Linked DNA regions of Homo sapiens. The protein of the gene in region 1 interacts with the protein of each later gene in a pairwise test. Each region holds a gene or a part of one and is shown on either strand. Other genes may lie near its edges. The genes, in order: MCCD1, P4HA3, LSM1 and BFSP2.

Region 1 (9,393 bases):
TGAGGGAGGTGGATCACTTGAGTCCAGGAGTTTGAGACCAGTCGGGGCAACATGGCGAAACTTCATCACTACCAAAGAAGAAAAAAATTAGCCAGGTGTGGTGGTGTATGCCTGTAGTCCCAGATACTCTGGTGGCTGAGGTGAGAGGATAGCTTGAGCCCAGGAAATTGAGGCTGCAGTGAACTATGATTGCACTACTGTGCTCCAGCTTGGGCAACAGAGTGAGATCTTGTCTCCAAAAGTCCTTGAAGGATTTTAGGAAGTTGTTAAAAGTCTTGAAACGATGTTTGGGGGCATGTTAGGGTTCTTGAATGTTTAATTCCTCTAATAACTGCTTATTCAAGAGAAGCATTTCTGACTGGGTGCAGGGCAGTGGCTCATGCCCATAATCCCAGTACTTTGGGAGGCTGAGGCAGGAGCATTGCTTGAGCCCAGGACTTCAAGACCAGCCTGGGTAACATAGGGAGACGCCCGTCTCTACAAATAGTAAAAATAAAAAATAAAAAAAGTAGCTGGGCGTGGTGGTGTGCACCTGTGGTCCCAGCTGCTTGGGATGCTGAGGTGGAAGGATCTCTTAAACCCAGGAGGGTGGAGGCTGCAGTGACTTGCGATTGCACCACTGCACTCCAGTCTGGGGGACAGAGTGAGACCCCATCTCAAAAAAGTGTTTAATTAATATACTTGTGAGTGGTCTATTTGCATTTAAAACTGCTTTCTAGAATTAGGATAGCTCCCTTAGGTTTAATGTTTTGGTGAGCAGGAATATCAGTTACCCCTCCAGATCTTAATTCTAGTTTTTTATCACTTTTTCATGAGGTGATCTCATCCTCATCTCCTAGCATGTCTGGCAATTTTGATTTCTGAACTCTGTGCTACCTCAGAGGCCAGCTTCCTTAGGGAAAAATCAGTGCTGAAGTAAAGTTATATTTCCTTTTCTGCTCTAAATATATAGTGGGGGAATAAGAGAAATGAAGAGGAATTCCTGAGAACGTAATTACTAGAAACTCCCCTCTCCCACGTAATGTCTCTCACACACCATGGACCCCTATTCCCCCAATTTGCGACCCCCCACCCCACCCCACAACAGGTGGTGATCTTTGTGAAGTCTGTGCAGCGGTGCATTGCCTTGGCCCAGCTACTAGTGGAGCAGAACTTCCCAGCCATTGCCATCCACCGTGGGATGCCCCAGGAGGAGAGGTGAGCTGAAGATGGGAAAGATATTTTGTGTCCTTGGGAGAAAAAGACAGTTGAGAGAAGGGAATCTCAACATGTTTTAAATTTCCTTTCTCACAAAGGCTTTCTCGGTATCAGCAGTTTAAAGATTTTCAACGACGAATTCTTGTGGCTACCAACCTATTTGGCCGAGGCATGGACATCGAGCGGGTGAACATTGCTTTTAATTATGACATGCCTGAGGATTCTGACACCTACCTGCATCGGGTAAACCTCACAGGCTGAAAAAATCCCACTCTCCCATTCCCTTGTTTTCTGTTTGTACATCTTCATTCCTGCCTCTGGGTCTCTTTCCTCTTCGGTCTTCCAGTGCTACCCTCTGTCTCCCTCCAGGTGGCCAGAGCAGGCCGGTTTGGCACCAAGGGCTTGGCTATCACATTTGTGTCCGATGAGAATGATGCCAAGATCCTCAATGATGTGCAGGATCGCTTTGAGGTCAATATTAGTGAGCTGCCTGATGAGATAGACATCTCCTCCTACAGTGAGTACTGATCTCATGAAACCCTTTAGGTCCTCCCTGTTCCTTAGTGTGTTTGTCCGAAATCCCATCACATAGGTCATGGGCATCTGATGCATAATGGACACTTGACTGGTTCATGCCCCCTGGTCTTTGATGCTGTGTTGGGATGTTTTTCTGACCTTTATGTGGGGTGTCTTGTCTTCTCTCATCATATTACATCCCTTCCCTCACCCCCACGTCCGTCCTCTGAACCCAGGCAGTACACCAGTGTCTGCATGTGTGCCGTGTGTTCCTGCCTCACTTTCCCCTTTTCATGCCTTATTCTGACCATGCTACGTTTTCTTCTCAGTTGAACAGACACGGTAGAAGACTCGCCCATTTTGGAATGTGACCGTCTGTCCTTCAGGAGAGGACACCAGGGTGGGGGTGAAGGAGACACTACTGCCCCCACCCCTGACAGCCCCCACCCCATGGCTTCCATCTTTTGCATCACCACCACTCCTGAACCCCCATTTCTGATTTGTCAGAATTTTTTTTTAACAAAACTAAAAATGAAACACATGTGTCTGTGGTATCTATAAGTGCTTCGTCCCTTTATTGTATTTGGGGTGAGGTTATTTTAGGGCATGGTCCAGGGTGAATTCCTATAAGGCCTGGGTGCCCTGCCTGCTGTGAGATCAAAGGGGAATGGGACTAAGACTGCAGAGCCCTGGCTCCCCCACTGCCTGCCAATTGCCTGCGCTTTGTGGTCTCTTCCACTTTCTCTGGCCTGGGAAGACGCTGGGGTGTTTATGATCCCAAGGCTCCTGGTGGGTGGTGCGTGTATTTTCAGCGCCGGAGGGTGCTGTGGGCACTGGGGGAAACTTAGGCGCCTCCTCCAAGGCTCTCTTGGTGCCTCCTCATCTGTTCCTTCAGCTTCTGGATCTTGAGCACCAGGGCTTGGGCCTCCCAGGCTCCCTCCTGCCCTTCAAGGAGGGCCTGGTACAGCTCCAGCTGCTGCTCCAACAACTCTTCAGCTCGGGCCAGCTCAGCTGTGCGGTGGGTCCCAGGGCCCTGGTCAGGGAATTAAGGGAGGGAGCATCAGCCAGGGCAGGGGGCTGAGGCCCTGGGAAGCTTTGTTGCAGGCTGTGGCTGGAAGTGAGAAATTCCACCTTCCCTATTCGTTTTTGAACCGGTCGTTTAAGGACACCTGTACTGAGAAGGCCAGGTAGCTTCCTGTCTTGGGCATAGGCCTCTGGGTGGTAGTAGGGGGAGCAAATAGAGTTCCCTGGCCCAGGGGCTGTAACTGGCTTCCTTGAACAAGGATATGGGGTCACTGGAAAGAGGATCAGCTGCTCCTCCCCGCTAAGAAATAATTAACTGTTAGGTGAGGGGGAATAGATCCTGTTCAAGGACTTTGTGGACTGTGCTGTTGTGGGTGGGGGTGGGGTGAGGGAAGGGAACCCTGAGGTCTGGGCTGGGGGAGGTGGGGAGAGGAGTTGGTAGCTGAACTAAGAAAAGAGCTGCAGGGGTAGGCATGGTGTGGGGTGGTGCAGGGTGGGATTGAGGGTTTTTTTTTCCCACACCCCAGTGTAAATTCTCACACCCTCTGTTCCTACCTGTGGTGCCACTTACCCTGGGAGGGGACGTCATCTTCCCATTTCCTCTGGAGCTGGTCTGCTCTTCCATGCTTGCTTTGGGGTTTTGGGAGCAGCACCCATGGGAGCCCTGGGGTGCCAAGGACCAGGAGGGCAGAAGGAGGCGAAGGAAATGGTACCGAGAGAGCCAGGGCAGAGGGAGGACCATGGCGGGTGACCTGGCAGGGAGCTGTGTGAGCTGTCCAACGGCCACCAGGAACTGGTTCGCTCCAGGACTTGGCCTCACTTGAGTGCCTGGCCCTGCCCAGGCCCCAGCCCCCAGCCCTGCCCCTGCCCCTGCCCCACTCTGCCCCACGTCTCTCCCAGCCTGGCCCCAGACAGAGTCCAGGAACAACTCCTGTTCCTGATGTGAAAAATGTCCCTGCCAGTTTAGGCAGAACTTGCTTTAGAGCACTGGTGCCCAGCCTACCACAGGTCTGTGATTTTTTTTTTTTGATCTAGTGTTTATTAGGTATGAATTTTACAAACATTAGCGGTAGCTGTGGAGCTGGAGAGTATTGCACCTTCTCCAAGCTGCATGGCGAGAACCACCAATAGTGTGGTAGAACTTACAGCCCTTTCCAAGGCCGTGGCTCTCTTGGCCTGCAGATAGCCTACGCATCTCCCTATGCTTGTTGTGGACCACTGGGTGTCAGGTTTCCTTCTGATAGTGTTATGGAATGGATCAACTAGGATAGCCTCAAAAACTTTGTATGTGGAATCTTTAACCAGCCCAGTGAGAATTCAGGACTCAGAGCCCCACAGTGGCATCCAGCTTGCTCTTCTGTAACAGACTGAAGGCTTTAAGCAAACTAGCTGGTTAACACCATGATAGACAGGCTTGCTGTTAAGTTGCCTTCTTAGGAACTAGATTTTCAGCCACCGTGGCGCTTATATGTAACATAACCTTGCTTGGCTGTAGCCCAGTAGCGTGCTTTATTGGGCTGGGTGGGGCGGGGATCCCTGTGGAGAGCAGAGAGCTGGTGGTACTGCCAGCAGCGGACCCTCAGAAGAAAGCTCATGACATCAGACTGCTTCTTCCATAGCTTCTGGATGTACTTGTATGCACCATCTTGGTTTACCCAGTGGCTGCTGCCAGACAGAAAGGAAAGGCTACCACAGGTCTTGTGTCTTTTTTTTTTTTTTTTTTTTTTTGAGACGGAGTCTCGCTCTGTTGCCCAGGCTGGAGTGCAGTGGCGCAATCTGGGCTCACTGCAAGCTCTGCCTCCCGGGTTCACGCCATTCTCCTGCCTCACCCTCCCGAGGAGCTGGGACTACAGGTGCTCGCCACTACGCCCGGCTAATTTTTTGTATTTTTAGTGGAGACGGGGTTTCACCGTGTTAGCCAGGGTGGTCTCGATCTCCTGACCTCATGATCCGCCCGTCTTGGCCTCCCAAAGTGCTGGGATTACAGGCGTGAGCCACCGCACCCGGCATTTCTTAACACTGTCTTTTCTCACTTCACTCTGCAAGGTAGGAATTACCTCACTGGTTTGCACCTGAGGAAACTGGCTCAGATGGTTTCATTCAGCATTCACTGGGGAAGTGTCTGTTGGGGGCAGCTCTAGGCTGGATGTGCTCGAAGGTCCATAGCTGGTTGTTGGTAGGGCCTGGAGGGTTCATGTCTAGGTCCACCTGACTTGAAAGCTCATCCTGACCTTGCTTAAGTGCTGATTCCCCTTTGCAGATGTACCTTTTATTGTGCTTCCCTTTATTGCTCTTTGCAGATGCTGTTTTTTATTTAGAGATTGGAGGCTTGTGGCAACCCTGTGTCAAGCACATCAAACAGGTCTATTGGTGCTATTTTCCCAACAGCAGGCAGACATCATGTCTCCATGTCACGCTGTGGAATTCTCAAAATGTTTCAAGCGTTTTCATTATTATACTTGTTACAGTGACCTGTAATCAGTTACTGAAGTTAACTATTGTGATTGTTTTGGGACACCATGAGCGATGCTCATATAAGACAGCAAACTTAATGGAAAAATGTGTGTGTTGTGACTGCTTCACCAACTGGCCATTCTCCCGACTCTGCTTTCCAGGCCTCCCTATTCCCTGAGGCACAACAATATTGAAAGGAATAATCCATGCGGCAAATGGCAAACATCATTGTCTTATTTTAAGAAGTTGTCAAAGCAGCCTTCAGCAGCCATGCCCCTGATCCATGGAGGCAAGACCCTCCCCCAGCAAAAAGATCAGGATTAGCTGAAGCCTCATATGATGGTTAGCATTTGTTTAGCAATTAAGTATTTTAAAATTAAAGTATATGGCCAGATACAGTGGCTCACGCCTGTAATCCCAGCACTTTGGGAGGCCGAGGTGGGTGGATCACTTGAGGTCAGGAGTTCAAGATTAGCCTGGCCAACATGGTGAAACCTCATCTCTACTAAAAATACAAAAATTAGCTGGGCATGGTGATGGGCACCTGTAGTCCCAGCTACTTGGGAGGCTGAGCAGGAGAATGGCTTGAACTCAGGAGGCGGAGGTTGCAGTGAGCCAAAATCGTGGCACTGCACTCCAGCCTGGGTGACAGAGCGAGACTCCATTAAGTATATACACAGTTTTTTGTACACAATGCTACTGTACACTTAACAGACTACAATATAGTACAAACATAACTTTTATGCACAATAGGAAACTAAAAAGTTTGTGTGACTCACTTTGTTGCTATGGTCTGGAAACAAATCTTCAGTATCTCCGAGGTATGCCTGTCATTTCCCTTTCCCTCTTCTTGCTGGCCCAGAATGACCTTGTTTCTTGCCCCTGTCTAGCCCTGCATGCTGTAGGGGTTTGCCTTCTCTGGTAGGTCTGGGCACTTTGTATCCCTTGTAACCTTGGCTCCTGGGATATGACACTGGTACAACTGGCCTCAAGTTCTGTTGGACTAGTGAGCCTCCCCCAACACCTCCTGAAGTAGAACCAAAGGCCTGTGCACACACCGTGCATGTGTGAGTCTGCATAGAGATGTCAGCTTCCTGCAGGGTGTTCTGAAGGGATGTCCTGTTGTGACTGGACTGTGACATAGCCACAGGCCCAGAGGCAGGAGTGGCTCAGAAGGGAGTGGCTGGTCCCAATTTTGATCATCTAGGAACAGGAAGGTCCTTAGAAAACCATGCCCCAGAAGGCAGGATTGCTGGAGAGTGGACAGCTGCTAGCCAGCTCGCTATCTGGATATCACTCTGCATTGGGAGGGAAGATGGCCTCTGCCATGGTGTAAGAGTCCAGGAACCAGGCAGTGAGGACTTCCCAGCGGTCAGTGCTTCTCACACTTGCGGGCCAAAGCACCTTTAGATGAGGCCAAAGACTTTACGTTCCTCATTAGCTGACTTTTTCCCACTTAAGTGGAAAAAGAACCCAGAACCTTTGTAAAAGTTTAAGGGGAGAAGGGCTTTCCCTCTTGTATCTTGGTGATAAGGTTATGCATGACTCATACTTTAATTGCAATGTGTACACAGCTAAAGTCTTAATTATTAGAATATAAGAGCCCCAAACTACTGTTATTATAGATAAGCGAAACTATGCAGTATATGGTTAAACAAACCACAACTAATTAACATTGAAAGTTGGCCGGGCGCAGTGGCTCATGCTTGTAATCCCGGCACTTTGGGAGGCCGAGGCAGGGGGATCGCTTAAGGTCAGGAGTTCAAGACTAGCCTGGCGAACATGATGAAACCCCGTCTCTACTAAAAATACAAAAAATTAGCTAAGCGTGGTGGTAGCCACCTGTAATCCCAGCTACTTGTGAGGCTGAGGCAGGAGAATTGCTTGAACCTGGGAGGCGGAGGTTGCAGTGAGCTGAGATTGTGCCACTGCACTCCAGCCTGGGCGACAGAGCAAGACTCCGTCTCTCAAAAAAAAAAAAAAAAAAAAAAAAAAAAAAAAAAAAAGAAAAGAAAAAAAATTAACTACATTTTTGGGAGGTGGACAGAGCAATGCTCTGTCACCCAGGCTGGAGTGCAATGGCACAATCTCTGCTTGCTGGAACCTCCGCTTGCCGGGTTCAAGCAATTCTTATGCCTCTGCCTCCCAAGAAGCTGGGATTACAGACGTGTGCCACTATGCCGAGCTAATTTTTGTATTTTTAGTACAGACAGGGTTTCACCATGTTGGCCAGGCTGGTCTTGAACACCTGGCCTCAAGTGATCCGACTGCCTCAGCCTCCCAGAGTGCTGGGATTACAGGTGTGAACCACCGTGCCTGGCCCTCTATCTGTTAATTTAAAAGATTAGCAGCCATTTAGAAAAAACAACAAATGAGACTTTTGCAAGACAATCTAAATGATACACTAATAACAATCCTTTGGGAAAGTGACATTTCAACCATGTGAGTTTCTGCTTTAGGTTATGAACTCCAAAATGGACTAAATGGACTAACCCCCAATAATTTATAGTAGCTAGTTTTTTTTTTTTTTCACAGTAGGTAATTCTAAACCATAAATAAAATAGAATCTGAATTTTGGCTTTGTTCACCTGTGGGAACTTAATTAAGAAAGCACTGGCCTTTGGGTCGGTTCAAATATAGTGGATGAGGCCAGGCGCAGTGGCTCACACCTGTAATCTCAGCACTTTGGGAGGCCGAGGCGGGCGGATCATGAGGTCAAGAGATCGAGACCATCCTGGCCAACATGGTGAAACCCCGTCTCTACTAAAAATACAAAAATTAGCCGGGCATGGTGGTGCACGCCTGTAGTCCCAGCCACTCGGGAGGCTGAGGCAGGAGAATCACTTGAACCCGGGAGCCAGAGGTTACAGTGAGCTGAGATCATGCCACTGCACTCCAGCCTGGCGACAGAGCGAGACTCTTGTCTCAAAAAACAAAAAACAAAACCAAAAAGAAAGAAAACCAAATATAGTGGATAATCGTGGATCTCATAATTGTAGAAATGAAGGAATTAAGCTAAAAAAATACATAAACCAGAATACCTAGTGCTAAAGTGGAATGTCCCCACCAAAACTCATGTTGACATTTAATTGCTATCCTAATGGTATTAAGATGCAAGACTTTTTTTTTTTCTTTTTTTGAGATGGAGTTTCGCTCTTGTTGCCCAGGCTGGAGTGCAATGGCACAATCTCAGCTCACTGCAACCTCCGCCTCCCATGTTCAAGTGATTCTCCTGTCTCAGCCTCCTGAGTAGTTGGAATTACAGGCACATGCCACCACGCCCAGCTAATTTTTGTATTTTTAGTAGAGACGGGGTTTCATCATATTGGTCAGGCTGGTCTTGAACTCCTGACCTCAGGTGATCCACCTGCCTTGGCCTCCCAAAGTGCTGGGATTACAGGCATGAGCCACCGTGCCCAGCCGATGTGGGACCTTTCAGGGTTGATTAGATTGAATAGATTAATGCCATTGTATGGCATGATAGAAATCAGTTCAGCCTCTTTGCCCTTCCACCTCTCACTATGGGATGATACTGCAGCCAGGCCCTCATAAGATGCCAGTGTCATGCTCTTGGACTTCTCAGCCTCCAGCTCTGTGGGAAAAACATTTATTGTCTTTATAAATTACCCAGTCTGTGCTGGGTGTGGTGGCTCAAGCCTGTAATCCCAGCACTTTGGGAGGCCAAGGTGGGTGGAAGGCTTGAGCCCAGGAGTTTGAGACCAGCCTGGGCAACATGGCAAAACCCATCTCTACAAAAAAACACAAAAATTAGCTGGTGTGGTCGTGCGGGTCTGTGGTCCCAGTTATTTAGGAGGCTGAGGTGGGAGGATCACTTGAGTCTGGGAGGTGGAGGTTGCAGTGAGTCGAGATCATGCCACTGCACTCCAGTCTGAGCGACAGAGAGAGACCCTGTCTGAAAAAACAACAAAATAAATTACCCAGTCTGTAGTATTCTGTTATAGCGGCAGGAAACGGACTAAGACACATAGATTATGTTACTGTGTTTATTTATTTATTGTTGTTTTTGTTATTCCTGACTCTTAATATAGAGTCTTAATCAGATGAGCATTCTGGCCTGGTCTCCGCAGAAGGGGCCTGTCTTTAGCCACGGACAAGAGGAGATTAAGGCCAGCATCATCCACAAGGTCAAGGGGCTGCAGAGCCCCCTAAGGCCAGTGTGCTGATGGGCCCCTCAATATTGTA
Region 2 (9,893 bases), on another chromosome or scaffold:
AAGCTTTTTGAGATAATTAAGCCCCACTGGTGAATTGGAGCAAACAGGTTCAGCTTTGCAGTGAGCCAGCAGTAGTAGCTTTTGGCCAGCAGCTGCTTTTTCCTTATAACAGCCCTGTTGCCATGGTAACGGGAGAAGTGACCCACCCAGAGACGTTGATTTAAATGTTCATGGCCATGTCGTCCATTTAGCATGCACAGATCTTGGCACACTTCCTTCCCCTAGAAGTGTCTCTCTGGGGCTGCTGATGCCTGTCTGGTCTGTGGCTCTCCCAGGAATCAGCCCTGGACTGACATGGTAGTGGCTTCCCCATGGGAACTGAAGACAGATGCCTCAGTGGCTTGTGTTGAATATCTCTGCTTCCTAGTCACTGTCCCTTTCCCAAAGCACACTCACTCATCACTTCTCTCTCTCACCACATCCTGCCCATCTTTGAAGACTCAGTTGAAGCCCTGCACCTTCGCTGGGCCCGCTAGCCCTGATCATTCTGGCCTCCTTTGGTTCTTTTTCAGAGCACTTTTTGGAGCCATATACAATTACCTATTCCTCCTCTGAACTCTAAGCTTTTTCTCACTGGTTGTTTGGTACTTAATTTTTAAATGTATTCTGCCATTTATGTGTTGTTTGACATCACTGACAGTTTCCTGGGTCAGCATCCTGTCTCCCCAGTCAGACTGTAAACTAGCAGGCATCATCTTTCTGCAAATGCCTTGCCCCATGTTCTTCCCATTGCTGCCAGAGTAAATCTTTAAAAGGTCAGGTCTGACCACTCAAGCCCTTGCTGAAACTCTTCACTGGGTCACTTTTGCCTTTGAGTGCTTACAAGTCTCCATGGCCTGGCTGCTGCCAACCCCTTCTACCACATCTCCCCCGGCACTTGACGCTCCAGCTGCACACTCTTCTGTCTGCCTGGAACGAACTGCCCTTGACTTCTCACCTGTATGATTCCAGTGTGTCTTGTGGACATCCTGGAAAGACTCCCTGTCCCTCATAAGAATGGGCTATGTGTCCCTCTTTCTATTGCCATGGCATTCTATACTTGCCTATTATGGCCCCATTAGATGTCTTAGGGGCAGGGACATTGTCTGGATTAACATTGTTTTTCCAGTGCCTAGCACAGTGCTTAGCACAGAGAACAACCAATAAATATTTGTTCCAAAAAACGAGTGACTGGTAGGTAGACAATTAATGATTGTTACAGGAAATAAATATAAGGTGACTCCTTAATTTGGGATGGGGGGGATTCCTTAGGGTTTTTTTTTGTTTTTTTTTTTTAAACCATTGATTTTGCCCTAAAAGAACAGAAGGGAGCATCTCTCTTCTATGAGTTTCTCCTCTACAAATGGCTCAGGACAGGACACCAGGGACAATGGATGGAGGCAACATCAATCCCCTTCTGATTTCCTGCTTCCTAAGATTGTAGAGCCACATGTGAGAGGAACTCGCAAGCACATGTTGTTCATAAGCTGCATTTTATTTATTTTTTATTTTTTTGTCCCAAACTTTTATTATTATTATTATTATTATTATTATTATACTTTAAGTTTTAGGGTACATGTGCACATTGTGCAGGTTAGTTACATACGTATACATGTGCCATGCTGGTGCGCTGCACCCACTAACTCGTCATCTAGCATTAGGTATATCTCCCAATGCTATCCCTCCCACCTCCCTCCACCCCACAACAGTCCCCAGAGTATGATGTTCCCCTTCCTGTGTCCATGTGATCTCATTGTTCAATTCCCACCTATGAGTGAGAATATGTGGTGTTTGGTTTTTTGTTCTTGTGATAGCTTACTGAGAATGATGATTTCCAATTTCATCCATGTCCCTACAAAGGACATGAACTCATCATTTTTTATGGCTGCATAGTATTCCATGGTGTATATGTGCCACATTTTCTTAATCCAGTCTATCATTGTTGGACATTTAGGTTGGTTCCAAGTCTTTGCTATTGTGAATAATGCCGCAATAAACATACGTGTGCATGTGTCTTTATAGCAGCATGATTTGTAGTCCTTTGGGTATATACCCAGTAATGGGATGGCTGGGTCAAATGGTATTTCTAGTTCTAGATCCCTGAGGAATTGCCACACTGACTTCCACAATGGTTGAACTAGTTTACAGTCCCACCAACAGTGTAAAAGTGTTCCTATTTCTCCACATCCTCTCCAGCACCTGTTGTTTCCTGACTTTTTAATGATTGCCATTCTAACTGGTGTGAGATGGTAACTCATTGTGGTTTTGATTTGCATTTCTCTGATGGCCAGTAATGGTGAGCATTTTTTCATGTGTTTTTTGGCTGCATAAATGTCTTCTTTTGAGAAGTGTCTGTTCATGTCCTTCGCCCACTTTTTGATGGGGTTGTTTTTTTCTTGTAAATTTGTTTGAGTTCATTGTAGATTCTGGATATTAGCCCTTTGTCAGATGAGTAGGTTGCAAAAATTTTCTCCCATTTTGTAGGTTGCCTGTTCACTCTGATGGTAGTTTCTTTTGCTGTGCAGAATTTAGATGGGGAAACAGGCCCAAGGAAAGGAAGAGGCTTTTCCAAGACTGTCTATCTGGTTTAGCAGGAGGGACAATGACATTATGGAAGCTTCAGAGAAGGGAAAGAGCTTCTGTCTGTGTAGCTCATTGCCCCAGGCACTGCTCTGCCTGCCTGTGAAGCACCAGAGCTGGGTCTGAGCCCTGTGAGTACCTTTAAGGGCAGTGCCCTATTTCATTCATTTGTTTATTTAACCAGTACTAAGCACCTACTCCACCACCAGGTGTTGAATGGACCCTGGGGATACAGCACTGAAAAAAGGCCAAGTCCTTGCCCTCATGAGCTGACATTCTGATGACAGAGGCAGAAGTAGACATGTTTACCCTCATATAAATAAATAATATTTCTCTTTCTGTCCCTGGATTTTGCAATTAGGAGACACTTTATTTAAAAATAATTTAGGCCCGGTATGGTGGCTCATTCCTGTAATCCCAGCACTTTGGGAGGCCGAGGTGGGAGGATCCCTTGAGACCAGAAGTTCAAGACCAGCCTGGGCAACAAAACAAGACCCCGTATCTACAAAAACATTTTTTTTTTAAATTAGCCAGGTTTGGTGGCATGTGCCTATGGTCCCAGCTATTTGGGAGGCTGAGGTGGGAGGATTGCTTGAGTCTAGGAGTTGGAGGCTGTAGTGAGCTATGATCGTACTAGTGCACTCCAGCCTGGGCAACAGAGCAAGACCCTGTCTCTAAAGATAATAATAATAATAATTTAAATGCTATACCTAGACATTCAGAACAAAAGAGAGGCATTTAGTTAAACTAGTGTTATCAAAACTGTTGTTGTCTTTTCATAATCAAGGCAGTTGCAGCTATGAAAATCTCACAAGTACCCTCAACATCTGTAACTATTATATATCAATTTTTTAAAAAAGTGGTTGTAGCAAAAACAGACTCTGATTCTCTGTAAGGAAAGGCTTTCATTAGAATATTCAAAAGGAGCAGGCTGCCTCTGAGTGTAGAGAGTTTCCTGTTGCTGGAGGTGTTCATTTAATTCGACAAACACTTACGAAGTGCTTACCATAGGTCAGGCCCTGTGCCTGACCCTGGGAAACAAAGACGAATGAGAAATAGCCCCTGTTCTTACCTAACTCACAGTCTTACAGATACAAAAGGGATTCAAATAACAGTTAAATTCAACTCAGCAAACTTTTATTGAGTGCTTACTGTCGACTAGACACAGTGTTAAAGGTTATTTTCAACTCTACGATCTTTGGTCACTTATGATCTTTTATTTTCAGGATTGATAGCTGTCACTAAATTAGTCCCACATGCAAAATGTCCTCTAATTAAGGAGGAACTGGCATCTGTTATGTTGATGCTTAAGAGAGAAATATGTCTGTGGAAGTGACAAAACTTTCCTTTTGCATCATAACCACTTGGACTTTGTCTTACATTCTTCCCACCAGCTACAGAGGTCAGTGGTGGCATCAGGGGAGAAGCAGTTACAAGTGGAGTACCGCATCAGCAAAAGGTAAGAAGGGCCCTTCCTTGGTCATACCTGCTGCCCACCCTCGGGCCGTAGCATAGCTGACTGCCAGTCAGCAACAGCCATTCAGGGACCTCCAGAGGTGGAGAATCCCTAGTTCACGTTTATAGCTGTACATTCTTTTTAAGAGGGTGAAGTTTCCACTCCCCTTTCCCAGGTTGTTAGATCATCTGAGGGTTTAACTAGAAGGCCATTCGAGAGAGACTTGGAAGAGCTCCTCTGCCCTAAACCAAAAAATATGTCTATAGTTGTTCTCCTAAACAGGATTGCTTTTCCAGAAGATACAGTCCTGTCCACATTTGTAATTTAACTTTACAAGATTCCATTCCCACCTCCTGACTCATATTGAAAGCATGACTTGCCAAGAATGAGACCAGAAGGACAAATAGACTCTGGCCCTGATGGCTTCTGTAGAGGAGCAGATTCAGCTGTGAGAGCCCAGCTTTATCCCACCCCTCCAGCCCTGCCCACCCCCCACTGCAGCCCTTTACTTACATCCACCAAAGACATGTGAGACAGTGACGTCAGCATCCTTGGGGGGAGGCCAGACCTCAGGATGGAGATCAGTTTGTGCTGTCTGGGAAGGGAGGTGAGTGATGAAAGCTGTGATTCAGAATCATTTGGCTTAACTTACTTGGTCTGGTACATTAAGGGCCTTTCATATTAGTAGTTATTCTCTAACCTATGGAAGGTCCCTATGACCTCAGCCTCATTGCTTTTTCTAACCTTTCTGATATTCTAGTGTCAGAGAGAAAATTCAGCCTTGGGTTAATTGCTTCCAGGGGAGCAGGTGGTATTTTCTTCCCTTTTCCGAACAAGAAACTACTTTCTTTCTCCACTTGCATCACTCTTCAACTCTTTGACTTTTGGTTCTGTCCTCACAACTTCGCTGGAGCTGGTCTCCCAAAGGTCACCAGGGAACTTCTAATTGCCAAATCATTTTCCTGCTCACACACCTTCACTGAGTACCCATTATCCATAAAGTCCAGATTCCATATCACAGTGTTTTCAGTTTTCTATGTCATGCCCTGAGCCTGCTTCTCCAGCTGTATCTCCCGTTACTTCTTCCTATCTCCTTATTCATAATTTATTGCCACACCTCCATGTCTGTGCTTATGCTGTTTCTTCAGGCTGGAATACTCCTACATCTTTTCCATCTATTGAAATTTTATGCACTCTTCAAAATTTGGCTTAAATGTCACTATCTTACCTGAGTGCCCCACTGGAATGAACTTCTCCTTCCTCTGTGCTTCCCAGCACTTTAAAGTCTGTTTCTCAATTTTTCACTGTACCTTACTTTGTTCTTAGTTATATTTGTGTTTGTCCTTTCCCCCATAATCCATGAGCTCTTAGAAGGCAATAGCTCTGTCTTGGGGATCTCTGTAACCTAAGAGCATGTGGCATAGCACTCTGCTTGCACTCTATTTGAAAGAATGAACACACTAATCCATCAAAAGCAAAGAGCAAAGAAATGGTCTTCCATATCATGCCAAGGCTGTTCCCTCAGAGCCTTATCGTCTCCCCAGGAGACCCACTGGCTTTAGGGAGCACTTTCTCACTTCCCAGGGACGTAAATTCTGATTCCAAAGTTGCCACTTTGTCAGAACCTCAACAAGACATTCAGGAAAAGAGACTGAACTCTGCTGTTTGGCCTTTGCCCTATCCTGGCTTGTCTTGCAGTAGAGCAGAGATTTTCCTGTGTTTAAAAGTAACACTAATGTATAGTTCACAAAGTGTCTTCATAAGCATTGCCTCTCACAATCTTTATAAGTCTGTGAAGTAGATATTATTATCATCCCAATTTTATAGACAACACACTGACCCTTAGAGAGGTTAATGGTTAAATACTTGACTTAGGATCACAGAGGATCAGGGACTCGTCACATTTCTCTAAATCACAAGCTTTTCCCACTGTACCCGGGTCCCTCTGTTCAGATGTCTCTACACCATAGCAGCTTTGAAGGCAGGGGTTTTGTCTTATTCCTCTTTGTATCTCAATGCTGTGAGTTTGTTGAGGTAGAGAACAAAGTGGACTGGGCAGACTTAACATGAGGAATGCATAGGTAATTAGGCATTTATGTCTGTCTTCCCTCCCTCTCTTTCCTCCTTCCTTCCATCCTTCCTTCTGGCAATTAACATAATTCATTTGTTTATTCATTCATTCAGAGACGTCATTTAGTCATTTCGGGCAACAGATCATTGATGCTTCAATCTGTGGTGTGTTTTAGTGCCTGGCTGAAGGACACTGTTGACCCAAAACTGGTGACCCTCAACCACCGCATTGCTGCCCTCACAGGCCTTGATGTCCGGCCTCCCTATGCAGAGTATCTGCAGGTGGTGAACTATGGCATCGGAGGACACTATGAGCCTCACTTTGACCATGCTACGGTAATGGTGGAGTCAATGACCAATCCCCTGGGGTAGGGAGCCAGGGCATTATTTATTTCTCTGAGGCAGAGCTCTTGTAGGCTCTCAGGGAATACTAAGTGAAATCTTAGAACAAAGGTTCTTTTTCCAGAAATATCTGAAAGCCTTAGTTTCAAGCATATTGTTGCTGACTCATTTTCTTGTCTGCCACCATCTCCCTTCTAAAATTTGCTGGTGAGGGAAGAATGTGGCTTGTCATGGAATCATCGGACTGCTCCACTCAGGGACTTCCTAGTGAGGATTGTCCTTCCTCCAGTAACTCTTCTAGCCTCATGATCTCAACTGGCCATCTTTGCTGATAATAGCAAATAATTTTTTTAAAATTTTAGATTCATGGGGTACATGTGCTTGTTTTTTATTTACGTATTTATTTATGTATTTATTTTTTTCTTTATAGGCAGCATCTTGCTCTGTTGCCCAGGCTGCAGTGTAGTGGCACCATCATAGCTCACTGCAGTCTTGAACTCCTGGGCTAAGTGATCCCCCCATCTCAGCCTCCCAAGTAGCTCTAGGACTACACCTGGCTAATTTAAAAAAATTTTTTTTGTAGAGACAAGGTCCTGCTATGTTGCCCAGGCTTGTCTTGAGCTCCTGGGCTCAAGCGATCCTCCCACCTCAGTCTCCCAAAGTGCTGACATTACAGGAGTGAGCCACTGCACCCAGCCATACTTGTTATATGGGTATTGCATGTGTAATGGTGGGGACCACACTTCTAGTGTACCCATCACCCAACTATTGAATGTTTTACCTGACACGTAATTTTTGAACTCTCACTCCCCTTTCACCCTCCCCCATTTTGCAGTTTCCAGTGTTTGTTACCTCCATCTTTATGTCCATGTGTACCCATTGTTTAGCCCCCACTTATAAGTGAGGACATGCAATATCTTATCTTCTGCTTTTGAGTTAGTTCACTTAGGATAATGGCCTCCAGCTCCATCCATGTTGCTGCAGAGGAAATTATTTCATTCTTTTTATGGCTGGATAGTATTCTGTTATGTATATATACCTTATTTTCTTTATCAAATCAACCATCGATGGACATTTAGGTTGGTTCCATGACTTTGCTGTTGTGAATAGTGCTGCAATAAATATCTGGGTGCAGGTGTTTTTTCTGTAATATAATACTTTATTTTCCTTTGGGTAGATACCCAGTAGTGATTTTTGAGGATTAAAATGACCTCCCCAAAATTGATCTATAAATTGAACCCCAGCTTTATAAAAATTCCAGGAGGTTTATTTTTGTAGAAATTAGCATGCTGATCCTAAAATGTATATGGAAATGCAAAAAACCTAGAGCAGCCAAAACAATTTTGAAAAAGAAGAACAAATTGGAGGACATACACTATCTGATCTCAAAACTTAATATAGAGCTACAGGAATCAAGGCAGTGTGGTACCAGTGTAAGGAGAGACACATATGTCAATGGAACAGAACAGAGTCCAGAAACAAACCAACACATTTATGATCAATTGGTTTTGACAAAGGTGCCAAGGAAATTCAATGAAGAAAATACAATCTTTTCAATAGACAGTATTGGAACAATTTAATATCTATCTGCAAAATAATAATGACTTTACACCCTTACCTTACACCATATATGAAAATTAACACAAAATGGGTCATAGATGTAAATGTAAAACTATAAAACTTCTAGAAGAAAACATAAGAGAAAATTTTTGTGACCACAGGTTAGGCAAAGATTTCTTAGATATGACACCAAAGTATGATCCATAAAAGAAGAAAACAACTGATAAATTGGACCTTATCAAATTAAAATTCTTTGCTTTTCAAAAAACATCATTAGAAAAGGAAAAGACAAGCCACCAACTAGGAGAAAATATTTGCAAATCATATATTTGGTAAAGAACTTGTATCCAAAATATCTATAGAACTTTTATAACTCAGTAATAAGATAATTCAATTTTTTTTAATGGACAGAAAGTTATTTGAGTAGGCACCTCTCCAAAAAGGATAAATGAATGGCTAAGAAACATATGGAAAGATGCTCAACATCATTAGGGAAATGCAAATTAAAACCACAATGAGATAGCACTGCACTCTCTTATGATGGCTACAATAAAATAAGATTATACCAAGTGGTGGTGAGGATGTGGAGGAACTGAAGCTCTCATACACTGCTAGTGGGAATGCAAAATTATACAGACACTTTGGAAAAAAGTTTGATGGTTTCTTAAAAAGTTTAAGATTCACCTACTTATGATCCAGCCATTTCACACCTATGTATATTACCCAAAAGAAAAAGAAAATATGTCTCTACAAACATTTGTACAGAAAAGTTTATAGTAGCTTTATTTGTAATAACCAAGAATTGGGGCTGGGCACGGTGGCTCATGCCTGTAATCCCAGCACTTTGGGAGGCCAAGGCAGGCGGATCACGAGGTCAGAAGATCGAGACCATCCTGGCTAACACAGTGAAACCCCGTCTCTACTAAAAATACAAAAAAAAAAAAAATTAGCTGGGCATGGTGGCAGGCGCCTGTAGTCCCAGCTACTTGGGAGGCTGAGGCAGGAGAATGGCATGAACCTGGGAGGCAGAGGTTGCAGTGAGCTGAGATCACGCCACTGCACTCCAGCCTGGGCAACAGAGTGAGACTCCATCTCAAAAACAAAAAAAAAAAAACAAAAAAAAAACCAAGAATTGGAAACAGCCCAGATGTCTGTCAACAGGTGAACGGATAAACAAATTTTGATATATCTGCACAATGGAATGCTATAGAGAGAAAGCAGATAAGTGGGTTGCCTGAGGTTGGAGGTGAGAGCAGGGATTGACTCCTAACTGGCATGAAGGAGCTTTTCAGCAGATGGAAGTGTTCTGTGTTCTAAACTTCAATTGTGGGAAAACTCATTGAACAGTAGGCTTACAAGGGGTGAATTTTATGGAATATAAATCATATCTCAAACTGTTCCATGACAAAAAAAAAAGAGTATGTCTCTTCAGCAAGTAATTGGAACTCTGGCCTTATGATTTGGTATTTCTACAGAATAATTGTCTGTAATATTTTATATATTAATTTCTATATTTCACAGAGAACTCAAAGGTGCAATTAACCCCTCATATAGTACTTTCACTACTGACAAGTAGTTCTGTTTGGTAGTAGACAATTCTTTTATATAAGTATCTAATAAATTAGTAAAAAAAAAAATTGTATTGAGTACCTGCCAGCAAAGACGGGCACATACTCCAGTAGGTGTATATCAGAACTATATCCCATCTTTGATGCCCCCATTTTACTTCTATTTGTATTAATAGTGGAATCCTGCCTGTCCCTCTGGTGCCATCTGCATAAAATAATATGTTCTGTTTTTTTTTTTCTCAGTCACCAAGCAGCCCCCTCTACAGAATGAAGTCAGGAAACCGAGTTGCAACATTTATGATCTATGTGAGTATTGCTCTGGGCTTCTTACTTCATGA
Region 3 (6,548 bases), on another chromosome or scaffold:
TGAGGGCAAACCATCCCACTGGGCAGTCGAGGAACTAAGAATGCTGCAGATAGTCCGGAGAGTTTCATCCTTTAGGTCCAAGTCTTGGCTGTTGGCTGTATGATAAAGGTCTAAAGCAAGACAGTACACACAATGACTGAAACCTTGCTATGGCTTGGAAATTCTTGGAATTTAACGTAAGAGTAAATCATAACTCTTGCCATTACAGTGGGAATTGATGGATGTTGAAAACACAAGATAACTGTAACGAATTCACATTTCTTGGAGGTGTCACATGTTTTGAAGCAGTGGGGCTCTGAAAAACAAATGCTGTCATTCTGCTGAACTTCAGAGTATCTTACTGTAGTCACACGTTTTTCAAAAGTTGGTATTTCTTCTCTTTATGTGGGTAGTTAATAATACATTCTATTAAACAGTAAGATGGGCAAAACATTAGATAAGCCATTAAGTGCAATAGTTTCCTCATAAGTTACCTACTATAAAATCAGCCCAATGATGAACAGTTCAGAAGTCAAATGGTTTGTAGGCCTTTTGGGCAGTTTTAAAAACCCCTGAGCTCATAAAATGTTAATACTATAAAATAATTCACACACATACAGGCCAAGCGTGGTGGCTCATGCCTGTAATCCCAGCACTTTGGGAGGCCGAGGCCAGAGGATCACTTGAGGTCAGGAGTTCGGGAACCCACCACGCCAACATGGTGAAACCCCGTCTCTACTAAAAGTACAAAAATTAAAGAGGGGTGTGGTGGTACGTGCCTATAATCTCAGCTACTCGGGGAACCTGGGATGTGCAGGTTGCAGCGAGCCAAGATCGCACCTCTGCACTTCAGCCTGGGCGACAGAGCAAGACTCTGTCTCAAAGAAAAAAAAAATAATAATAATAAATCACACACATACAAATTAGATATAAAATTTATGAAAATAACATTTTTGCTTAACAGAATATAAAAAGGAACTACCTGGAATAATCAGTTAAAATTACTGAGAATCAGAGGATGACTTACTCAAGCCTAATCTGCCAATAATTGCCAATTTCACACGGTATCTCCTAACTCCTAGTTGAGCCCACTGTCTACTAAACCATGATTCCTTTATTTATTTATTTAGAGACAGAGTCTCACTCTGTCGCCCAGGATGGACTACAGTGGTGCAATCTCAGCTCACTGCAACCTCTGCCTCCCGGGTTCAAGCAATTCTCCTGCCTCAGCCTCCCGAGTAGCTGGGATCACAGGGATGCACCACCATGCTAATTTTTATATTTTTAGTAGACGGGGTTTCACCATGTTGGCCAGACTGGCCTTGAACTCCTGACCTCAGGTGAACCACCTGCCTCTGCCTCCCAAAGTGCTGGGATTACAGGTGTAAGCCACTGCACCCGGCCCATGCTTCCTTCTTGAAGTACAAATCTGTTAAGCTTTTCATGCAATCCCTACTCTTCGACAGTCACACAAAGTGCCATCACTATGGGCTTTCAGTCACTACAATACCATTTATGTTCCTTTTTGATGAGAACGTTAAGATACTCAAGACTCAATACAAAGGACTAGAACACCTAATTAAATTAGCAGAAAACCTGGAGAACAAGCCACTGTAAGAACATGTTGGGTCTCGTGGGGACTTAGTTTGGAATAGCCATGGGCGAAGCAGGAGCAAGAGCAACCATGATGTCGTTTCTCAAACATGAGTCTTCTGCAGTAACCAGTAACTGGGAAACAGCTGAAAGCTCCCTCCTCACGCCTGAGCGTTTATATTTTTTTTTTTTTTTTTTTGAGACGGAGTTTCGCTCATTGCCCAGGCTGGAGTGCAATGGTGCAATCTTGGCTCTCCGCAACCTCTGCCTTCCAGGTTCAAGTGATTCTCCTGCCTCAGCCTCTCAAGTAGCTGGGATTACAGCATGCGCCACCACGCCCTGGTAATTTTGTATTTTTAGTAGAGACAGGGTTTCTCCATGTTGGTCAGGATGGTCTTCAACTCCCGACCTCAGGTGATCTACCCGCCTCGGCATCCCAAAGTGCTGGGATTACAGGCATGAGCCACCGCCCCTGCCGAACATTTGTATTTCTTAACAGATACAAACATGGAAACAGGAGAGGACCCCTGAGATGACTGGAATAAAAATATTCCTTCCTAAGTAGCCAGCTACTTGAAACTGTGACTGAAGGGGGAAATCCCAGTATGTGGACTGCTTATACCTTTGAGAGCAGAAACTTAATTAATCTATTAATCTATTCATTACAGGTAACTCAAACTTGGAAATAACATGACACTTTTGAGATTCATATTTTATTTACAAGTAAATGAAGACTGTCCCTGTAAACTCTAATTTGGGATATGAAGAACAATATAAAGAAGTAGTTGCTGGTGCCACAGTGATGTGTGAAGGAGTCTATGCCACTGTTTCTTTAAACAGTGATTTTGTTATTAAAAAAAAAACCCACCTACACGATTTCTTCATGTTGCATATGTAAAATAATTAAAAATAAAAGTGACTTTTCAAAACTCTACAGTCTGTGATCAAATGCGTGAGGTGGCCAGGATGTCACTTTCACTCAGTGACAGCCCCTACTCTTCAAGAGCCAACAGCCTCTGGGCAAAAGATTAGTACTCATCAAGAGTATCTGCTCGAGGAATGGAAAGACCTCGGTCCTTCAGGGCCTGCACTTTCAACTTCTCTGCTTCCAGCTTGGTCTGCTGTTCCACCCTTTGTTCTTCTAGAATTTCTTCAATGGATACTTGCTGGAGGGGTGTGTCACTCTCCTTTTCCAAGTCCTACAAAAGAGACAGGTTTGAAAACTTCACCTGAAGACCAAGAATAGAAAGCACAGATCTCAAGGCAAATGGATTCCTCTATCAGGCTCAGATTATTTTTCATAACTGTGACAGGAACTGAAATATCCTTCTCCTAGGGACCGGTAAGTTTTTCAAAGAAATGCCTGACAACACTACTATAGGATACATACTTACAATGAGGTTAATAGTGATCAGTATATGTATATATTTTTCAAGATGGAGTCTCTCTGTCACCCAGGCTGAAGTGCAGTGGCGCAATCTGAGCTCACTGCAACCTCTACCTCCTGGGTTCAAGCGATTATCCTGCCTCAGCCTCCTGAGTAGCTGTGATTACAGGCACGTGCCACCACGCCTGGCTAATTTTTGTATTTTAAGTAGAGACAGGGTTTCACCACGTTGGTCAGGCTGGTCTCGAAACCTGACCTCATGATCTGCCTGCCTTGGCCTCTCAAAGTGCTGGGATTATAGGCAGTAATAAGTATTTGTATAACAGAGCTTTATGTGATCCAAAATCCCATATTAGTCAGGATTAATTTTCTATTAGTCCACGATTAATTTCCTTAAAAAAAAAAATTAGGGCTGCTTATAGACAGCTATCTCCCCCACTGCAGAGAATCCAAGAGGGAGGTTATTGAGGCAATGTGGCCTTAGACTTTTTTTTTTTTTTAATTATTTTAAGGACGGGTGGAGTGGCTCACAGTCGTAATCCCAGCACTTTGGGAGGCTGAGGTGGGAGGATCACTTGGGCCTAGGAGTTCGAGACCAGCCTGGGCAACACAGTGAGACCCTAACTAACTCCACCAAAAAACAAAACAAAAAAAAGCTGGTGTGGTGGTGTTCACCTACAGTTCCAGCTACTCAGGAGGCTGAGGTGGAAGGACTGCTTGAGCCTGGGAGGTTGAAGTTCAAGGCTGCAGTGAGCCATGAATGTGTCACTGCACTCCAGCCTCTGCAACAGCAAGACCGTCTCAAAAAAAGTAAAAAGACAAAAATAAAAAGGGATCCTCTTGCCTTTACCTCCTACGTAGCTGGGGCTACAGGTGTGCGCCACCGTACCAGCTCTGTAGTCTAGATCTAAACTGTAACAAGACTCTTTTTCCCTTTACGGCAACAAGTCTTCTAGGGAGAACCTCGGCAGACCATTTAGGTTACTAAACCAATTTGGTCCCAATATTTTTCTCCACTATTTAAAAAATTGCTGCTTAGGTTGGGCATGGTGGCTCACGCTTGTAATCCCAGCACACTGGGAAGCCGAGGCGGGCAGATCACTTGAGGCCAGGAGTTCGAGACCAGCCTGGCCAACATGGCAAAACCCCCGTCTCTACTAAAAATACAAAAAAAATTAGCTGGGCGTGGTGGCAGGTGCCTGTAATCCCAGCTACTTGGGAGGCTGAGGCAGGAGAAGCACTTGAACCTGGGAGGCGGAGGTTGCAGTGAGCGGAGATCACGCCATTGCACTCTAGCCTGGGTGACAAGAGTAAAACTCCATCTCAAAAAAAAACAAAAAATTGTTGCCTAATAAAAAATTCCTTATTTAAAAAATACACACTCATCGTAGATAATATGGAAAATAGACAAACAAGGAAAATTTAAAAATTATCCATAATTCCAGTATGGAGGATTAACATTTTGATAATATCCCTACAATTTTTCTACATATATACTGACTTAAAAAAAATAAACAACCCAGCCAGGTGTGGTGGCTCACACTTGTAATCCCAGCTACTCGGGAAGCTGAGGCACGAGAATCACTTGAATCCAGGAGGCAGAGGTTGCAGTGAGCCAAGATCACACCACTGCACTCTAGCCTGGGCGACAGAGTAAGACTCTGTCTCAAAAGGAAAAAAAAAAAAAAGTAAAAAATAAAAAATTAGCTGGGCGTGGTAACGTGTACCTATAGTCCCAGCTACTCATGAGGCTGAGGGGGGAGGATCACTTGAGCCCAGGAGTTTGAGGCTGCAGTGAGCTGTGATCACACCACTGCAGTCAGCCTAGATAACAAAGTGAGACGCTGCCTCAAAAACAAACCCCTCCCAAAAACCCACAATGCAAATACTGACTTTAATTCGTTTTTTCACTTAAATGTGGCATAGTATGCTTAATATTTTTATTTTTGAATGTTTTATAAACATTTTTCATTAATTATTTTTAAAGATATAGAAGACTTCATGAATTTGCGTGTCATCCTTAAGCAGGGGCCGTGCTAATCTTCTCTGTGTTGTTCCAATTTTAGTAGATGTGCTGCCAATGTGAGCACATTTTTCATTTTTTTAGAGACAGGATCTTGCTCTGTTGCCCAGGGTGGAGTGCAGTGGCACAATCACAGCTCACCATGATCTGAAACTCTTGGGCTGAAGTGATCCTCCTGCCTCAGCCTCCTAAGTAGCTGGAACTACAGGCATGTGCCACCACATCTGGCATTAAATCTTTTTTCTTTTTGTAGAGATGGGGTCTTGCTATGTTGCCCAGGCTGGTCTCAAACTTCTGGCCTCAAGCATCCTCTTGCCTTGGCCTCCCAAAGTGTGAGCCACTGTGCCTGGCCCTTATAAACATTTGCTAACCAATGTCATAATGCAGAAGAACCTTGCTAAAAAAGTATCTCACTGTCCATAGATTCAGTTTATTGTCCTTAAAATGAATGTACAGGTATTATTTGGTGTTTTTGTAAGATGGAAAGCCTATACAAAGTATTCCTGTTTCTTACCCTCCTCTATGACTTTCAATGATAAAAGTTTGGGACGGTACTGACACACTTCTCCAGATGCTCTGCCCTGCATACTATTACCACATGCTGCCAAGGTCTCAGAACTCACAGGCAGTGGCATTATCAGTCAGAGAGGACTCTCACCACAGAAGTTACAATGAAAGCCACACAAATTACATAAGCAAGCCCTGCTCTAGGTCCAAAGTTAACAGCACCCAGCAAAGTATATATTACCACCTGCCCTCCCAACCCATGAGTAGCAGCTAAAGAGAGCACAGTGTTCTCGGCCTAATGCACTGCCTCTTGGGCTTTTCAGTATGTGACTTGCTAAGCAATTCATGCTGCTGTTGCTGCTTCTTCCCAACAGTCTTATTACTTAATGCTGTGTCATCATCATCGTCCTTGAGGCAGAATTCAGGGATTTCTTAACCAATATAGTGTTTACAGAAACTGATTTCTATGTATGAATTCCTCTGGGGTTGGTACATAATTTCTCCTGATTGCTGATTCACATAACAATGCAGGCATTCCTGGAACCAAGTTTCTGTAGTGGTACCCCTGTAAAACTTCTGCAGCATCCAAACCATAACATATTTTTTTAAAAAAGGGAACTTTTCCTCACAAAAGGGATCCAAGGAAACAATTAAACTTCAAGAACAAACACGTTCACCTCTTTCTCTGCACAAACACACACATCTACTTAGATGTAACTTTGTGCCAATGTAACCAGTATAAAAAGCATGTCTGCTATGTTTACTACTATAAAACAGAAGCATATCTGTGAATATTTTCTTGAGAAAGGGTCTTGCTCTGTTACCCAGGTTGGAGTGCAGTGGTACAATCATGGCTCACTGTAGCCTCGACCTCCCTGAGCTCAGGTGAATCTCCCACCTCAGCCTCCCAAGTAGCTGGGACTGGTGATGTGCACCATCACCCCTGGCTAATTTTTGTATTTTTTTGTAAAGACAGGGTTTGGCCATGTTGCCCAGGCTGGTCTCTTGCAGCTTAAGCGATCTGCCTGCCTCGGCCTCCCAAAGTACTGGGATTACAGA
Region 4 (5,546 bases), on another chromosome or scaffold:
GATACAAGAAGCAGGACTCATAATATACAGGAGGCCATGATGGTTGCATTTGGAAGGAAGAGAAGGAAGGAAAGCAGGAACACATCTTTCCCTGGTTTCCAGCTCACATGGGTTCACCCGTTGAAGCATAGACTAGGGGGAGCCAGCAGGTTCAGGAGGCAGCCAGTGGCTTCATTTTGGACACCTTGATGTGAGGTCTGAGTATATGTTTCCAGTAAGAAGTTCAGTGGCAGGTCCATAGCTACTGAAGGAAAGATTGGTGGTGGAATTATCAACGCAGGACGTGGCCTGGAGACGACTCATGAGTATGTTCAAATCATGAGTATGATGGAGACCAACACAGACCCAGGATGCGCTCCTTGGAAAAAAAGCGGGCTCAGGGTGGGCACTGGGAAGCCCAAAGTGAAGGGACGGCAGAGGAAAAGGGATGGGCAAAAATGTGCTACTAAAACACCAAAGGGGAAAGCGCTGAGTATATAAAGGCCAGAGACATTCATTCTAAGGACAGTGATCTGGGAAAGAAAGCTGGAGGAGATGGTGTTCCAGCCAAATGATGGATGGGGTTTCAGCAGCAGAGGGAGAAGGGGTCCCCCGGGGAGTGAAGAAATCAGAAGAAAAAGCCCCGGAGAACAAGATTTCTTTGAAGAAACGCCTGCAAGCTGCCTCTCATTTGTCTCTCTCAATCCCTATCCCTCTTGCCCCGCTCCTCTCTCTCCTCACACCCCCTTTCTTTTCTCCCTCCCTCTCTCCTTCTCTTTTTCGCCTCCCTCACCCTCTCTCCCATCAAAAAGATCAATCAGACTAATCCACAGTCTGACCTGAGTGGGATTCCTTATTTTTCCCACGGAGCCACTAAGAATAACCCCCATCAGTCTCCATAACTGGCAAGGTCCCTGCCACGAGGGGAATAGTCCAGGCTACCACCAGCCCCTGCCACTGCTCTGCACACCTCCCTCTTCAAGGGCCCGGCCTGTTGTCCTCGGGTTTGGACCGGGTTCGCTCTTTTGTAGAAACGAGGCCTGGAGAACACCTTGCACGATGCCAAGCACTGGCATGACATGGAGCTCCAGAACCTGGGCGCTGTGGTCGGCCGGCTGGAGGCGGAGCTCAGGGAAATCCGAGCGGAGGCGGAGCAGCAGCAACAGGAGCGCGCGCATCTGCTGGCCCGCAAGTGCCAGCTGCAGAAGGACGTGGCGTCCTACCACGCCCTGCTGGACAGGGAGGAGAGCGGGTAAGCCTCGCTTCCGCGTCAATTATCCAAGAGATGCATATTCATGGCTTTAAAAATAATTATTTTCCAAACACTGTAGAAGTATTTAAGAAGAAATCACCCCAGACTTCCTCTCACATAGGCACCCATTCCCACAGCCTAGCTGTGTCCTTCCTTTCCTATTCACATACAAATAATATATATAATATATTCACATACTAATACATTTTCTATATGTATGCATATTTATGTATGTATATATACACACATACATTCACATACATGTGTATACCTAGGACGTACATAATAGCTGTTAGGAATGTTTCAGTTGCTTGTAATAGAACCTAATTAATGAGGCTATAAACCAGTGCTCCTGAAACTAATGTGCACTCAAAACCCTGCGCATCTTTTTTTTTTTTTTGGATACAGGGTCTCGTCTCGGTATGTTGCCCAGGCTGGTCTCGACTCAAACCCCTGGGCTCAAGTGATCCTCTCACCTAAGCCTCCAGAATAGCTGGGGTTACAGGTGTGAGCCGTGACACCCCAGCTGGGCATCTTTTTTAAATGCAGATTCTGCTTCAGTACGTCTGGGGTGGGGTCTGAGAGTCTTCCTTTCTAACAAGCTCCCAAGTGATGACTATACTGCTGCTCCACAGACTACACTCTGAGTAGCAAAGATGTGTAAATCATTTATTTAAGAGTCCCAGAAACAGGTGATCTAGGCTGCTCAAAGATTTCATTAAGGACTCAAGCTCTTTTCATCTTTCTAACATACCATGACAACATTGGCTTTTTGTCTTTATCTTTGTCACCCCATGGTTACCATATGCCAGCCACAGATCCAAACATCACATCCTCATTCCTGGCCGGAAGTGGGAGAGAAGAGGCAGCAGCAAAAAAAAAAAAAAAAAAAAAGGCTTTTTCTTTTTTTTTATTGATCATTCTTGGGTGTTTCTCGCAGAGGGGGATTTGGCAGGGTCATAGGACAATAGTGGAGGGAAGGTCAGCAGATAAACAAGTGAACAAAGGTCTCTGGTTTTCCTAGGCAGAGGACCCTGCGGCCTTCCGCAGTGTTTGTGTCCCTGGGTACTTGAGATTAGGGAGTGGTGATGACTCTTAACGAGCATGCTGCCTTCAAGCATCTGTTTAACAAAGCACATCTTGCACCGCCCTTAATCCATTTAACCCTGAGTGGACACAGCACATGTTTCAGAGAGCACAGGGTTGGGGGTAAGGTCACAGGTCAACAGGATCCCAAGGCAGAAGAATTTTTCTTAGTACAGAACAAAATGAAAAGTCAAAAGGCTTTTTCTTGAATGATCCTCTCCTTTAATCAGTGAAGGAAAGACATTTTGAGGCTTGCAGTGGACTGTCCCTTATATCTCATTGGCCAGAACCTGCTTATACTGGCCATACCCATCTGCAAGGGAGGCTAAGAAAGCAACTCTTTAGCTTTTCCAGACTCCATAGTGGAGGCAGGCAAGGGGTTGGGACTAGGAGTTGAGTTAGTCTGCCATAATTACACACACACACTTGCACTCACTCTTTTTTTAATAGATAAGGATTCCAGAGGCATATACATCAGCCTTGGGCCTTAGCTTCCTTGCCAACTCTTTCCAGAAACCCAGGCCCTTATTTTGTATCATAGTTCTATGCCTTCTTATTTCCCTCCAAGACTCCTTGTCTGACATATGTTGAATAAGGAATAGAGACAGCTTAGTGATTGTATCATCCAACCCCTCCTGATTCAAGAGAGAACACAAAGACCCAGAATGGAAAAAGATTTGCGCATGATCACACAGGAGGCGGAGACAGCACTGGGATGGGAGCCCAGGTCTCCTGCTCTCTCCAACTGTGTAACCTCTCTTTATTCAGAAGGCGGGAGAGCCTCAAGGAAGCGACCTAACCACGCCCTGCTTTCAAATGGAAAATATGTCATCCAGCTCCTCTCCAACTGTCTTTTATTGAATTGATTTTTGTTGATTATAAAAGCCAGATGTTCCTAACAAAGTATTTTTTTTTCAGATGCCTATGAGCATCTGTATAAACACACAAAGTCAATTTAAACAAACAGCAAGAGCAGTGAGTTAGGCCGAGTTACTTCTTAAGAATCTATGTGCTACGTTCATTTAGTGAGTGCCAAGGCAGACCTGACTCTTGATTATTTTTGTTTATCCTCCAAACCCTGCCAAGACAACCTCATGATCCGTGTTTTAGAGACAGGAAACAAAGCCTCAGAGAGCTTAAGTCATGGCCCAAGGTCTCACAGCAAATAACCATGGAGTAATTATTTAAAACCCAAAACTATCTTGTTCCAAAGGCCAGATTCTTTCATGAGATGGCCCCCTTTCTCGTAATCCTATTGTGATAGAATGACCGATTTTCCTCACCCATTGCTTCTGACTCCTATGTGTTTCCTTTCAGCTGATGGAGAAACTTCCTCTTTTTCATGAAGAAAACACCCTTCCTCAACAGCTGACCCAAGAAGTTGCTTGAGGAGCTTTCTCCTGAGCTCCAGTCCCTGCTGGATTCCCTGGTTAATTCAGCTTGAGCTGAAAAGCTTCCTGGAAGTGGAGAGGATCCTTCTGCTTTAATCTGAGTAGTCTGTAGCTTGAGCAATCTCCCTTGTCCTCCTTCAAATAAATGCTTTGTGCGCAGCGTCCAGTTTGCCCACCTTGTTCAACTCACTATAGGGTCGAGATGGATATCACTTTGTCTGTCTGGCCTTTGCTCACAGAGCTATGCTTGAAGGCTTCTGGAAGGATTCCCTTGAGTGTGACGCCATCTGCCTCCCTAGGGTCACCTGCTCTTGGGTTTGTCAACATAAAAGTGCTGCGGAGGCAAAAGCAGTGCTCATGGCATGCAGGATTGACGCAGTCTGGGACAAAAAACAACACTCTTGCTCGAGAGGGGATTAGTGTGGTGCTTTATCACATGTTTCATAATTACAGGCATCGTGGAGTATTCAGACCTCTTTAATATACTCTGCATGCATATTCATGTGCAGACACACACATTTCACTTGCTATTGGCAGAGCATCTCTCAATCAGTTAAAAGGGAACTTCAATCTAAGCCCAATCTAAACCCATTCAATCTAAGTGGGGGATTAATTACACTGTGGTTGCTCACCCCACTTACAGCCTCAGAATTTTCTTCCAGGGTCCTTTCTCCAGTTCTCTCAGGGCCTAAGCCAGCCAAATATAGTTCATGCATCTGCCACCTACCCAGGCAAGACTCTCTTGCCTTCTGATTAAAATTGAAACCACCACCTGTGTCCTACCACAGGTTCTCAGTGTCTCTAAAACTGAAAGGAAAAAAAAAAAAAAAAAAAGCCCAACTTTAATTTTGTCATTCCTCCCTCAAACTTCTGTTGGTCTACCTATCACACAGAATTACAGACCAAAATATCCAAGCTGAGTCTTTGTGTTTGTGAGCTGCTAATCCAGACAGGGGGATGTATCCAACACTGGTACATTTGAAAACCCCCATACCCGAGGGTCCAAATAACCAAGGCCCACACAAAGAAAAGAACATTTATTTATCCTTAAGGATTGCTTATAAGAGAAGCAAGGTGGCCAGGCGCGGTGGCTCATGCCTGTAATCCCAGCACTTTGGGAGGCCAAGGTGGGCAGATCACAAGGTCAGGAGTTCGAGACCAGCCTGGCGAATATGGTGAAACCCCGTCTCTACTAAAAATACAGACGTTAGCCAGGCTTGGTGGCGGGCGCCTGTAGTCCCAGCTACTCAGGGGGCTGAGGCAGAAGAATCGTTTGAACCCAGGAGGCGGAGGTTGCAGTGAGCCGAGATTGTGCCACTGCACTCCAGCCTGGGCAACAGAGCAAGACTATCACACAAAAAAAATAAATAAATAAAAGGCAAGATATATGGTATCCTGGTTGGAATTGCTACAACTGGTTTTCCTTTTTGGCCTGCAAGAGCAAAGGAATTGTATTAAAGATCACATGAGCAGAACCACTATTTACAATGTGCATAGCCCCTTGACATAGGTCAGTTTGTTGTTTGAGACATGGAAATAGGCAAGACACCCTAAAACTACATTTTAGCAAAGTATCCATCTCCATAGCTGCACACTATGGGGCTGCCCATAATTGAACCGCCTGGGTACAAGAGTCTTGCCAGAAAACAAAGTGGGTGGCTGGCCTTGCTATGTTGGATGCACAAGACACTGACGTCTGTTTCTTTTCTGTCTTTCTTGTTACTATTAATTTTTGGTCCCTCAGGCAAGACCTAAATTCCTAACCTAAATGTAGCTGGAGGCTTCAAAGGTGACAGTCCCCAAAAGGTCAGCCATCAAAAGGAGGTACTTCTATGACC

Evidence for each region.
Region 2: the proteins of MCCD1 (region 1) and P4HA3 interact in binary tests that used the Homo sapiens proteins (3 or more experiments, as listed by UniProt).
Region 3: the proteins of MCCD1 (region 1) and LSM1 interact in binary tests that used the Homo sapiens proteins (3 or more experiments, as listed by UniProt).
Region 4: the proteins of MCCD1 (region 1) and BFSP2 interact in binary tests that used the Homo sapiens proteins (3 or more experiments, as listed by UniProt).

The regions. Positions count from the first base shown.
Region 1 is NC_000006.12:31,523,100-31,532,492, reverse strand, and holds MCCD1 (mitochondrial coiled-coil domain protein 1 precursor), read right to left. Parts: upstream 3,532-9,393; 5' UTR 3,479-3,531; coding exon 3,308-3,478; intron 2,747-3,307; coding exon 2,558-2,746; 3' UTR 2,261-2,557; downstream 1-2,260. Other genes in the region: spliceosome RNA helicase DDX39B, read left to right, coding at 1,088-1,197, 1,296-1,440, 1,567-1,714, 2,043-2,059.
Region 2 is NC_000011.10:74,273,513-74,283,405, reverse strand, and holds part of P4HA3 (prolyl 4-hydroxylase subunit alpha-3 isoform 1 precursor), read left to right. Parts: intron 1-3,953; coding exon 3,954-4,018; intron 4,019-6,261; coding exon 6,262-6,421; intron 6,422-9,798; coding exon 9,799-9,861; intron 9,862-9,893. UniProt on the Homo sapiens protein: Catalyzes the post-translational formation of 4-hydroxyproline in -Xaa-Pro-Gly- sequences in collagens and other proteins.
Region 3 is NC_000008.11:38,161,070-38,167,617, forward strand, and holds the end of LSM1 (U6 snRNA-associated Sm-like protein LSm1), read right to left. Parts: intron 2,772-6,548; coding exon 2,601-2,771; 3' UTR 2,270-2,600; downstream 1-2,269. UniProt on the Homo sapiens protein: Plays a role in the degradation of histone mRNAs, the only eukaryotic mRNAs that are not polyadenylated. Probably also part of an LSm subunits-containing complex involved in the general process of mRNA degradation.
Region 4 is NC_000003.12:133,471,335-133,476,880, forward strand, and holds the end of BFSP2 (phakinin), read left to right. Parts: intron 1-1,010; coding exon 1,011-1,231; coding exon of another isoform or gene 1,232-1,235; intron 1,236-3,634; coding exon 3,635-3,638; 3' UTR 3,639-3,874; downstream 3,875-5,546.